2 linked regions of the Homo sapiens genome follow. The protein of the gene in region 2 interacts with the protein of the main gene of each other region in a pairwise test. Each region holds a gene or a part of one and is shown on either strand. Other genes may lie near its edges.

Region 1 (4,016 bases), about 49 Mb from region 2:
AACTGAAATATATGTATATCAGAACCACCACATCAAGGACAAGTGACATTGCTATTAGAGAACAGATAAATCCATTTCTTTCTTTCTTTTTTGCTTTTGAGACAGGGTCTTGCTCACTCAGCCTGGAGTGCAGTGACGCAATCATGACTCACTGCAGCCTCGACCTCCTGGGCTCAAGTGATCCTCCCACCTCAGCCTCTCAAGTAGCGAGGACTACAAGCATGTACCACCACACTCAGCTATGTTTTGTTTTTTTTTTTTACGACAGAGTCTCACTATGCTGCCCAGGCTGGTCTTGAACTCCTGGGCTCAAGTGATCCTCCCACCTTCGCCCCCGAAGCCATTTCTTGATGCCCTAAAGAAGAAAAGTTCTAAGTGGATGTCATCACTATTAATCACCTGACAAGCACTGATCAGGCTGTATGCACAGAATTTGACAGTGGACAAACTTTTCTGTCCACCGTTCCTAAGAAAGGGGATTTCTATAAATGAAATCTCATCAGAAGAAAGGTTGGAAACCTGGCCAGGCACGGTGGCTCATGCCTGTAATCCCAGCACTTTGGGAGGCTGAGGTGGGAGGATCACGAGGTCAGGAGATCGAGACCGTCCTGGCTAACACAGTGAAACCCCATCTCTACTAAAAATACAAAAAATTAGCCAGGTGTGGTGGCGGGTGCCTGTAGTCCCAGCTGCTCGGGAGGCTGAGGCAGGAGAATGGCGTGAACCCGGGAGGCGGAGCTTGCACTGAGCCGAGATCGCCCACTGCACTCCAGCCTGGACAACAGAGTGAGACTCCATCTCAAAAAAAAAAGAAAGGTAGGAACCCAGTGTAAGTTATATATAAACATTTACTTAATATCATAAACGAACTTTGTTCAAAAACTCTTTCGACTGATTTCTGTTAGCTGAATCTTTTATTCAATCCCTTATCTAAAAATAAACAGAAGGCCAGGTGCGGTGGTTCATGCCTGTAACCTCAACACTTTGGGAGGCCAAGGTGGGTGGATCACGAGGTCAGGAGATCGAGACCATCCTGGCTAACATGGTAAAACCCCGTCTCTACTAAAAATACAAAAAATTAGCCGGGCATGGCGGCCAGCGCCTGTAGTTCCAGCTACTCGGGAGGCTGAGGCAGGAGGATGGTGCGAACCTGGGAGGCAGAGCTTGCAGTGAGCCAAGATAGCGCCACTGCACTCCAGCCTGGGCGACAGCAACACTCCGTCTCAAAAATAAACAAACAAACAAACAAACAAACAAACAGAAAACAGGCTGGGCACAGTGGCTCACACCTGTAGTCTCAGCACTTTGGGAGGCCAAGGCAGGTGGATTGCTTGAGGCCAAGAATTCAAGACCAACCTGGCCAACATGTCAAAATCCATCTCTACTAAAAATACAAAAATTAGCTGGACATGGTGGTGTGTGCCTGTAGTCCCAACTACTCTGCAAGCTGAGGCATGAGAATCACTTGAACCTGGGAGGCGGAGGCTGCAGTGAGCCAAGATTGTGCCACCACACTCCAGCCTGGGCGATAGAGTGAGACTCTGTCAAAAAAAAAAGGAAAACAATTAATTGCTTTAGGATCTTCTAAAGGAAAAGGAATCTCCCCTGCCCTCTGGCCAGGGACCCCTACAGTACACCCCAAGTTAAGCTACATATTATAAAAGCCCTCTTATTCCACGCATTCAGTTCCAGTACCAGGTGGGGTTCATCAGAGATAAATCCAGCAACCATTTAAAATGATATGTGAAAGTGTATGTATACACACACTTCAGACATTTTGTTTTGACTTAATATACAAAAGTATATTCATTTGACAATCTTTTGAAATAGAGCTGAGTAGGTCTTATGAGTTCACTGAATAGAGCTCTTTTTTTAATAAACCATACCATTGTATTGTCTGCAATTTCCACAATTTACAGTTTGGGGGTTTTTAAAATATTTTTTGAGACTAAGTCTTGCTCTGTCACTCAGTCTGGAAGGCAGTTGCACTATCTCGGCTCACTGCAACCTCCACCTCCCGGGTTCAAGCGATTCTCCTGCCTCAACCTTTCCAGTAGGTGGGATTACAGGCGTGTGCCATGACGCCCGGCTAATTTTTGTATTTTTAGTAGAGACAGGGTTTCACCATGTTGGCCAGGATGGTCTCAAACTCCTGACCTCAAGTGATCCACCAACCTTGGCCTCCCAAAGTGCAGGGATTACAGGTGTGAGCCACCGTGCCCAGCCTGGGTTTTTCTTAAATAAGGCAAGATTGCAAAAATTTGCAAGGCAATCTAAGTGCAGAATCTTCCTCAGTTTTTACAAAATTCCTCCCAATCTTTTATAGCTGACCCACTCATCCATAATTTCATAGCATTTCCTGAGTCAGCATTCAACTTAGGCTTCCTAGGAATAATTCTTTTTATAATCGATTTTCATCAGTTCATATAATCTTTTATGAAATTATATAATTACAGTAATAAGAACTAGCCCAACAGCTTTGGAATATATCCAACATCTCTTATGAGCCCCCAGGGCTAAAGTGTGCTGAAAGAAGTGGGGAGCGCCAGTTATATGGAGGCCAAGGAAGAGAACATCTCCTGTGTATAAAAGCTATTTATAAACCACTGTAGATAGAGCCTACATTTTCAAATTATTTTCTAAAAGACTCACCAGGTAAGGATGAAAGAATTTCTATATCTACTTGCTGGGTCTCTGGATTGTGGCTTAATATTCTTCCTTCCTTTCAAAAATAAAAGTCCAAGTCAAAATCAACATGTAAAACACTGTGAATATACTAAAAACCACTGAATTGTAGACTTTAAAATGGTTAAAATGTTGAATTTTATGTTATGTGAATTTTATCTCAGTTGAAAAATTTAGAAATAAATCCACATATAGAGAAAATAAAAACAGGTGGACTGATAAACACTTTATGTGAATATACAGAAATATCTTTAGAGGCAAAATAAAACATTTAAATCATAAATGGCAGACACTATCTTAAATAACTCGATGAAAGTAAAGATTACACCAGGGAACCAAAAGTGACTGAATAAGGGAAAAGGAGAAAAAAATCACACCAGGCTGATATATTCAAGTGAGCACTGACCATCACAGCATTCATCAGGAGAGACTAGATATATCCTAATGGTGCAGCCTCGGTTCCTGATGCTTTTAGAACCCTTCTAAAACAGTGATCACAACCCCCCAGGAGAAACCAGAAGGCACTTTATCACTGTTAAGATCCCAATTCTCCTTCTCCCAGGTCTCCAGCTGTGGGAGCTGATTTTCTAATGCATCAAGAGGATGCACTGCCCATGCACGTGGGCGATGGGGAGACACATGGTAGCCTCCGGGGGTATATACTGAGAGGCCAAGCAACCAGTTCCTCCTGCCTCTACCTGGAATTTCTGAGCACAGTCAACAGTTTTTTTTAAAACCAGACTCAACAGGGAATCAGGGGCTTGGGAGACTACATTTTTTAGTACAGAATTGAACCAATTTAATTTTTGGAGACAAGGTTAATGAATAAAGCAGATGATCAAGCTGGATAACTGCGTTTGAGGTCAAAGCAAAAAAGTAGGACCAATTTTCATTCTTAAAATGTTTTTGAAAGCAATTTCAAAAATCTTCAAAAAATTTTGCCAACTAAAGTAGGCAAAACACCTTCCAACATTAATAACTATGACAACTAATACCAATTTAATATGCAATTTTTTTTAAGAGTCTCGTTTTGTCACCCAGGCTGGAGTGCAGTGGCATGATCTCAGCTCACTGCAACCCCCACCTACTGCGTTCAAGTGATTCTTGTGCCTCAGTCTCCTGAGTAGCTGGGGCTACAGGTGCACGCCACCATGCCAGGCTCATTTTTATATTTTTAGTAGAGATGGGGTTTTGCCATGTTGGCCAGGCTGGTCTCGAACTCCTGACCTCAAGTGATTCACCTACCTTGGCCTCCCAAAGTGCTGGGATTACAGGCATGAGCCACTGTGCCTGGCCATTAATAAGCAATTTTTAAAAATCAGTATCATCTA
Region 2 (2,763 bases):
TGGCAACTGGGTTGTCTGCCTCCTGGGGAGCCCCGGGGAGCGGAGGAGAGTGCTCCTGCTCCCCTCAGAGCTGAGTAATGGTCCCCATGCTGCTGGAGAATGGCAAACAGTGTGGAGTGTGGGCGACAGGCGCCCTGTCACTGTCTGCACAGTCTCACACGGTCACACCCAACAGTCTGACCCAGCTCCTGCTCAGCCCCGCTCACCCTGACCCCTGCCGCCCCCACCTTGGGAGTGAGATTTCAAACAGGTTTCCCCCTTCAGTTTACCAAGTTGCCTAGCAACCAACCAGTCAATGGCATGAAGCCCCACCCCCACCCACTTGACTTCACACCAAGCTCAGCCGCCCCATTGGCTCCTGCCTGGTCCCACCTCTCAACGCCTGGTTTCAGGACCAATATGCCATACCCACTGCTGCTGGACCAGGGAGCCCGCCAGTCCCCCTGCCTGGTCCCCCACCTCACTCATATGCCCCCCCAAAACAGACACGAAGACTCTAGTATCATAAAAACCTTTTTATATCAGCTCACCCACACCTCCCTCCGTTCCTCCCTGCCCTTTCTCGCCCTGGTGATCATCAGGGATGCTGGAGTCTGGCGCCCCCCCACACCACCAGAGCTGAAGCCGACATTCAAGGTGGACGTGGCGCGTGGAGAGCAAGGGAAGGCCCAGCTCCTCTCCTTCGTCCCCACTCTCTGTGGGCTCAGGAAACACACGCTGACCGGAGGCAGTGGCCAGGAGAGGCAGGCTAGGGTGCAGGCTGAGGGAGAGATGGGGAGGGTCTATCAGTGCCTTCAGTGAGGACACTTGCTCCCTCTGGGATTCACCTCCCTCCCCAACCCAAGCCCCAACATCTCTGGAATTGAACTGAGGACCTCACGCCATTGGTGCAGTCCTTCTGGGGCAGAAAACTCAACACGGGCTCCGGCTTCCCATCATTGCCAGGCCCGTCCGTGTCCCACACAGAGACAGCCCCGCTCGTGCTGCCACTCACTAGGAACTGCCCGGTCCTGCGAGAGAGAGGAGAGATTTGCTGGCAGAGGCCTCACCCCTGGGGCAGGAACCCCTCACACCCAGGGACTGGGACCCTACAGCTGGGCTCTGGCATTCCTAGGCTTATCAGGGCCCTGTGTAGGAAGGAGTCACAGCCACTCACGGGTCCAGATCGAAGTAGATGCGCTGATTGGTGGTCACCTCTCGACCCAGGGACCACAGTGGGTAACCAGACTGCCGGAGATCCCAGCACAGGAGCTCAGCATCCTGGAGACAAGGAACAGGACCTGGAGTCACCCCCAAAGCCCTGGATGTCCCTGCCTCCCTCGGGGTCTCCAGGCACTCCTTCAGCTTGGGATTTTTTCCCCATCCCCACCCATTCCCCTACACTGCAGACTACATCCCTGCTCCTGCCCCGCTGCCCAGCTGCTTTGGGCTCTCAGGGTGTGACCCCTACCTTGCGGGCTCCTGAGAAGAAGCGGTTGCCATCGGGATGAAAGCAGAGGTGGGTGATGCCCCCTTGGTGCCCTCCCAGCAAGGCGAGAGGGGAGCCATCATCCCAGGCATACAGACCCAGGGAGCGGCCGTAGGAGCCACAGGCATAGAGGGGCTGGGCTGGGCTGAAGGCTATGCAGGAGATGATGCCGCTCTGGCCCTGCTTTTTTGCTAGAGAGGGAAGGAACAAAGTGGGGGAGGGGGCAATGGCTCCTGGCACTAACCAGGCTAAGCAGAGGTCTGTCTCCCGTCCCAGCACCAACATGCTTGGACTCAACATCCCCCCCATGCTGTCTGTCACAAGCAGGACAAAGACCTCTGATGCTCCCCACATCTATCCTCCCAAAGGACCTAAATGCCCAAGCCCCACTTCATCCCTCTCAAATCCCAGTTCTTCCTTGGAGAGATGCAAGTTGAAGGCCTACAGGAAAACGGAATCAGCTTTATCAACAATTTTCTAGAAAGATTTCAGAGACCAAAAGCTCCACAGCTGACAGGGTATGAGTTCAGGAAGGAAGCAGTCCTTTGACCAGCTGGTTGGCCTTGGGAAGGTTTCCTACCTGCTCTGAGCCTGTTTGCTCCTCTGCCGACTGGGCTGCACCTGCTCCCGGGGCCGTACAGAGGACGGCGTGAACCCCCACAGGTGGCCCCCGGCTCACAAAAGGCCCCTGTGCAGGTGGCAGTGCCCTTCCCTCTCCTCCTCCCTTGGAGGCACAGATGCTTACCAAATGTGGCTCGGACCTCGCAGTCTCGGCCAGGCCGGGCCGTGGAAAAAACACGCACAGTCCGGTTGAAGCCACAGAAGAGCTGGGAGCCATCCGGGGAGAAGCAGAGCGAATGGGCTGCCGTCAGCTCATCCTGGGGGAAGGAAAGGGCTGAAAACAGGTCTTGCAAAGCCTCAGCTGCCCTCAAGGAAGGAGAGCCGGGCCAGTACGAGTGCTGGGGCTGAGTATGGCGGTCCCTACCAGGTGGTTGTAGGCGCGAAAGGAAGCCCGGAGCTCTCCAGTGAATGCGTCCCAGATATGAATCGGGTTCTCCCGGCTGCTGCTGGCCACGCTGAGAGAGACATGGACACTGAAACCCCGGTGCTGTCAAAGGAAGGGGAGGAATGGCCGGGCACAGTGGCTCATGCCTGTAATCCCAGCACTTTGGGAGGCCAAGGCAGGTGGATCACTTGAGGTCAGGAGTTCGAGACCAGCCTGGCCAACATGGTGAAACCCTGTCTCTACTAAAAATACAAAAATGAGGCTGGGTGTGGTGGCTCATGCCTGTAAT

Evidence for each region.
Region 1: the proteins of WRAP53 (region 2) and COIL interact in binary tests that used the Homo sapiens proteins (3 or more experiments, as listed by UniProt).

The regions. Positions count from the first base shown.
Region 1 is NC_000017.11:56,943,790-56,947,805, forward strand, and holds part of COIL (coilin), read right to left. Parts: intron 2,723-4,016; coding exon 2,653-2,722; intron 1-2,652. UniProt on the Homo sapiens protein: Component of nuclear coiled bodies, also known as Cajal bodies or CBs, which are involved in the modification and assembly of nucleoplasmic snRNPs.
Region 2 is NC_000017.11:7,701,240-7,704,002, reverse strand, and holds the end of WRAP53 (telomerase Cajal body protein 1), read right to left. Parts: intron 2,545-2,763; coding exon 2,454-2,544; intron 2,347-2,453; coding exon 2,214-2,346; intron 1,660-2,213; coding exon 1,451-1,659; intron 1,261-1,450; coding exon 1,157-1,260; intron 1,011-1,156; coding exon 876-1,010; intron 761-875; coding exon 517-760; 3' UTR 501-516; downstream 1-500. UniProt on the Homo sapiens protein: RNA chaperone that plays a key role in telomere maintenance and RNA localization to Cajal bodies. Specifically recognizes and binds the Cajal body box (CAB box) present in both small Cajal body RNAs (scaRNAs) and telomerase RNA template component (TERC).